2 separate regions of the Homo sapiens genome follow, and region 1 is linked to region 2. Evidence: fine-mapped expression QTL. A gene starts in region 2. The other region holds a variant in brackets. All regions are shown on one strand. Distances are from middle to middle.

Region 1 (2,918 bases), 30 kb before region 2:
CCAGCAGAATTTTTATGTTAATTCTGACATTGCGTTGTTAGTACAAGTGTTTTTCCCCCTTCAAATTTATGTCTTTGTTACTGATAAATGTAACTGATAATGCTTTTTTCAGCTATGTTGCCAAGCATATTTATATAAAAATATACTCAGATTGTTTTCAGAATTTGACAAAGATGATAGCAACAATGATAATCTCATTTGTTTTATACTAATCTTTATGTGTTACTTTCATCATTTCTTACATATTGGGGCCTACCATACATTGTACAGTGAAATTAGTACTATGCATCATGGTAGGAATATAAATTGGCAAAAGTAATTTAGAAAATAGTTCTCGTTTCTTAAAAAAATTAGGCTGGGTGTGGTGGCTCATGCCTATAATCCCAGCACTTTGAGAGGCAGAGGTGGGCGGATCACCTGAGGCTAGGAGTTTGAGACTAGCCTGACCAACACAGCAAAATCCTGTCTCTACTGAAAATACAAAAATTATCCATGCGTGGTGGTGTGTGCCAGTTGTCCCAGCTACTCGGGAGGTTGAGGCATGAGAATTGCTTAAACCTGGGAGGTGGAGGTTCCAGTGAGCTGAGATTGTGCCACTGCACTCCAGCCTGGGTCTCAGAAAAAAAAAAAATTTTTTTTGACCAAAATGTCATTATGCATTACATGACTGTATATGAATGCTCAAAGCTACATTACTCATCAAAGAAAAAAACAAAATAATTAAATGTCCATTAACTGATAAATGAATAAACACTATCTGTATGAATAAACACAGCAGACTATGAAGGAAAACACATGACCAGCACGTGCTAACACGTCAATTAACTTCAAACATAGTATGCTAAATGAAGGAAGTCAGATTCCAAATATATATATATGTCCATTTCTATAAAGCAAGTGGGAAATTTATGGAGATGGAATGTCACAGCAGTATTGCTTAGGGCTGGAGATGGGAGTGGGGATTAACTGCCAGTGCACAAGAGAGAACTTGGGTGAGGGAAACATATTTAAATTAGATCGTGGTGTTGGGTGCACACAGTATCAATTTAATAAAGCATCAAATTGCAGACCTTTTCAGTGGGCAAACTTTATGGTGGGTTCACACCCAATATAGGTGTTAAAAATAAATTAATGTTATGGAAATTCTTGTCGGGTTTTTAACAAGCCAAGAGATATGCTGTGAAAGCAGCATTAATTCAAATGGTTGTCACAGGTCACTTAATCAGATAGTTGTCCTACAAATATAGGGTGAATGTTATTCACGAATTTCCTGAATCTATTGCAATAATCACATTTTTTTCCATTAAACTCTTGAGGTAGCTAATTTTATTTATTGCATTTTCAATGTTAATCTACTATTTCATATTTTGAGATTAACTCA[C/T]ATTAGTCAGAATTTACAGTATTTTAAAATATCACAGAATTTAATTTACCTTATCTGGTTTTGGTTTCAAGACTATACTAGCCATTTCATTTAATTGTACATGTAGGGTATTCTAATTTATGGAAAACTATTACATCTTCCTTGATTTTTTTTTTTTTTTAGAAATTACTTCTAGGGATCTATATGGTAGAGTCCATGGAGAATTGTTTTAATTCTACATTCATGTCTTCAGTGGGTATACGATTGGTCATATTGGTCATAGTTTTCTGCTCGGATTTCAATAAGAAACTTGTGGAAGAACCTGAAGGGTGGGATCTTTGAGGGAGCCTAAGACGGAGCAAGACAAGCTAAGAAGGAGGGCAGTGCCACAGCAGAACTGTTATTGATGCCCCCTCACCTAGATTGCAGAAGAGACATCCAGCTGTAGACACTGAGGTGCAGGAAAACAATGGAGCACCATCAGAGAAAGCAGTGCCCAGGAACAAGGAGGCACTGATGGTGGCAAGGGGCAAAGACAGCTACCACGAGGCTGTTCACATGAGGGTCTCAGGCTGCATAGACACCCACACCAGCTGAGGGGTCCTGGTTTTCATAAAGTGTGTGGCTCAGCCAGGCCACCAACAAGAAGTTCACAAACAGTAGTAATACGACACTTTCCAAAGACCTTACTTGAGTAACATGGTGATCCTCACAAATTTCCAATCAGGATGGTCGCACGGTTCCTCCTGCTTTAGGACTCAGAGCCTGCCCATGGTCACAGTGGGTAGGTGCAGACTCTGAAGATGCCCTTTGGTCAGAGACCCCGCTGAACTCTGTCTAATGAGGACCTCTGTCCTGTCTGCTGACCACCGGTCAGAGGTGCAGGCTGCACTGGGGAGTAAGAATGCCACCTTCTCAATGTTGGGAAAACTCCCTGCCAGAACTGAGAATGGCCCTTTCTAAGCAGAAGACAAGCTCAGACTAAAGAAGGAGGCCGACCACATCAGGTTGGCAGATTGCCAAAGATTCACTCAGGGAGAGCCCACATCCTGGGCCATCTTGGGTGGTGGCAAGATGAGGTAGATGACTGCTTTTGCAACACATACCTGACAACAAAAAATCAACAACTGTAAAAGAGCCACAAAATCCCCAAATATTTGCAAATTAGCAATGCAGTTTTAAATAACTCATGGGTTAAAGAAGAAGTCTCAATAGAAAATTAAAAATACTTTTAACTACATTAAAAGAAAATGTGACTTGGCAAGATTTCTGGATGTAGCAAAAGCAGTCCTTAGAGGGAAATCTATAGCATTGGATGTAATATACTAAAAATCACAAGATCTAAAATCAGTAATATCATGTTTCAATTAGGGAACTGTAGAAAATAGAGGAATGCAATGGAAAGCAAGTAAAAGTAATAAACAACATCACAGAAATCAATAAAATTAAAACACTGAAATCATCAGAAAATCAATAAAACCAAAAGCTGGTTCTTTGATATGCTCATTACAATGAATGAATTGATATGCAGGCTAACCAAGAAAAAGAAGATAACACA
Region 2 (2,918 bases):
ACCACAAAAGCAATGAATATCTAAAGGAATCCTGAGAAATACAATCAAAGTGAGAACCCACAATCCTTGATATCAAATTAAATTGCCAAGTTGTAGTTATGCAGTAGATATATGGTACTTGCATAAAAAGAAATACCTAGAACTATGGACAAAAACAGGGAGGACAAAAACAACACAAATATGGACACAGTCAACTGACTTTGATAAAGAACACCACAATGTGGAAGGCAGAGTCTGATCAATGAATAGCTTTGAGAAAAATGATATCCGGATGCAAAAGCGAGAAACAGGACCCTTATTTTACACGATGTATGAAAATCAACCGCCCCCCCCATCAACTGAAGGCCAAAACAAAATACCATAAACCACAAAATGTTTTTTAAAAAATTACTGTGTTTACTTAAGTAAAACACAGGTTGAGCATATATTTTGGGTCACTTGAATCTCTGTTAACCTTTGCAAAGAGGAAAAGAAACAAACACCCTGGAAGAAAAACCTCACTGACAATTAAATGCTTTGTTACTGATGCATATTTTCTAATATGGGTGACCATTATGACACGCATAAAACGCAAAAAAAAAAAAAATATGGGACTACATCAACGTGAAAAGTTTCTGCATGGCAAAGAAAACTACTTTCCAAATAAAAAAGCATCCCATAGATTATGCAAAAATTTCAGGCAATCATGTAATTCACGAGGAGTTGTCAACTAACGTGTACACAAAAAAGAGTACAAAGTAGAAAAAGAATCCAATCTAATATTTCGCAAATAACCTAAAGAGACAATTCTGCACAGATATAAAATCGAACAACAGATAAGAGATAAGGTCCTCGAAATTAACTATTCATTAGAATACTGTAATTCAAAACCACACGCAGATAGTCTCACACTTATTGAATATTCCTAGAAAAATTTTTTAAAAATAGGAGGGTCTGGGAGCCGTGGCTCACGTCTGTAATCCCAGCACTTTGGGAAGCCAAGGCGGGTGGATCACCTGAGGTCACGAGTTTCAGACCAGCCTGACAAATATCGTGAAACCCCGTCTCTACTAAACATAAAAATACAAAAATTAGCCGGGCGTGGTGGCGGGCGCCTGTAGTCCCAGCTACACAGGAGGCTGAGACAGGAGAATTGCTTGAAACCGGGAGGTGGAGGTTGCAGTGAGCCGAGATGGCGCCACTGCCCTCCAGCCTTGGAGACAGAGCGAGACTCCGTCTCGAAATAACAAAAACAAAAAAAATTGGAATGGGGGTTTGGTTTTGGAGAAACGGGAACTCATACACTGTAGGTGGAAATGAAAATTAGGGTACACACCATGGAAAACAGTTAAATAGCTGGAAACTCCTCAAAGAATTGAAACTACAGATGTCCCCTGCTCTAGCGAGGTCTCTTTCTAAAGGTCCTGAGGCATAAAAAATAACCCTAGACCCCAGCTCAGAGGCCCGTGGGGCTCGGAGGGACCCAGTCCAGCGCTTCACCGCCGGCTCTGGGCCAGGGCGCTCCTATAGGCTGGACGTGGGTCGGACCGGGGCATAGCCTTCCCGGCGGGGGTGTGGACGCTGCAGAGGCCAGGATCCCACAACCGCCCCAACGCTGACGACTCGGGCCCAGATGCCCACTTAGAAGTCAGGGCCCGAAAGCAGGGAGCGGCCGGGAAGGAGTAGGGAGACCCAGAGGGTTCCAGGTGGGGTTCATCCCCCTCCACTTACCGCCGAGGCCTGCCACCTCCTCCACCAACAAACGGAAGCCACCACATCTTCTCCGAGACTCGCTCTGACCACGCCGCCGATGCTGCCCGGGCCTCGCACGAAGCGCAGTCTCGGCTTCCCTCGGGGCCTGCATGCTGGCAGCGTCCCTGGCGCCAGGCTGAAGCACCACCCCCTCTTAAAGGGGCCGCGGCTGGGACTGGGCAGAAGCAGCTTCGGGTTGCACAGGCTGAGCGTCTGCCCAGCCCCAGGGGTGGAAGAAAGGCCCCCAGTCTGTCATCCTCCCGGGCTCTAGGGCCCTAGAGGTCGCAGAAGCCCCTCCTGTGACCCCAGCCCCTAAATCGGCTCCCTTTGCCTGAGGAGCGCCCGGGACCTGCCCCTGCCCTCCTCGGGACCTCAGCTTCACCATCCTCAAAGAAAGCGGCCTGGCTGGAGCTCTGGGGTCCCTCAAGCTCGGCGCCTCAGGATCCAGGGTGGGCTCCCCTGCCCCTCTGCAGAGGGGGCCCAATAGCCACGGAAAGCTGGGGGCTGGAGGGACAGTCCCGAGGGCAGCAGGGCGTCCTTGGCCTCACCGTCTACATTCGTCCTGTGGGAGCCCGGGGGCGTCGCTAGGGCCCAGACTCCTGCGGCCTCACCAGGGCTGCCTGGGTCACCGGGCTCCCCAGGAGGCAGGGAGGGACCCTGGGGTCCAGCGCTGCCCCCACCTCAACTCCATTCTGCGTCAGCATCCGCGAGGGGATCCTGTGGACTGGACCCAGACCCACTCCTTCCCGGGGAGCGGGACCCGCATCGGTCTCTGTGACACCCACGGGAGGGGCCGTGCTGACCTCTCCCGGGGATCTGGGGGCGAGGTGGGGGAATCTCGGCCACCTCTTGAAGCTCGCTGAGCCCCCCACCCCAGAGAGCGCTCAGGAGCAAAGGAAAGGACGGAGAGCCCACACATTTTCTATCTTTCATTTCCGTTTTTTCTTTTTTCCCCCCTCCAAAATGAAAGACGTGTGTAGCTTTGTCCCCTGTACACCATCCATTCCCCATGGCCGCTGTGCGGATCCAGCCCGCTGGTTGCCTCTAGGGTCCTGGGCGCCCGGCGGTCCGCATGCAGCCCGGGGCCTGCCCAGGTGAGGTCTGCGGCCGCCACAGCGCTGAGGTCCCGCCTGGCCGGGGCGCACGGGCCGCTGGGGATGCTGGCTGCGAGGCTCCGGGGAGGTGGA

Which allele goes with the higher level. Positions count from the first base shown, and alleles are read on the strand shown. Sizes are in standard deviations (SD) of each study's normalised expression.
With allele C in place of T in region 1, the expression in stomach of the gene that starts at base 1,825 in region 2 is higher (moderate effect, 0.55 SD a copy in GTEx).

What was found. PIP is the estimated chance that this variant, and not a neighbour inherited with it, causes the effect. A credible set is the group of variants that fine-mapping cannot tell apart.
Region 1: its variant is the best candidate, but not a certain one, in a credible set for the expression of FAM230C in stomach (GTEx, PIP 0.62).

The regions. Positions count from the first base shown.
Region 1 is chr13:18,224,054-18,226,971 of GRCh38, reverse strand. The region is part of intron 4 of FAM230C (family with sequence similarity 230 member C); the gene reads right to left. Among named protein-coding and RNA genes, the nearest start is that of FAM230C, 30 kb to the right of the region's middle. The variant C/T (reference allele first, on the strand shown) is at 1,382.
Region 2 is chr13:18,194,204-18,197,121 of GRCh38, reverse strand. FAM230C (family with sequence similarity 230 member C) reads right to left here and starts at 1,825. Exons shown (of 8, transcript NR_027278.1): 1 at 1,711-1,825. It also overlaps the pseudogene LOC124903223.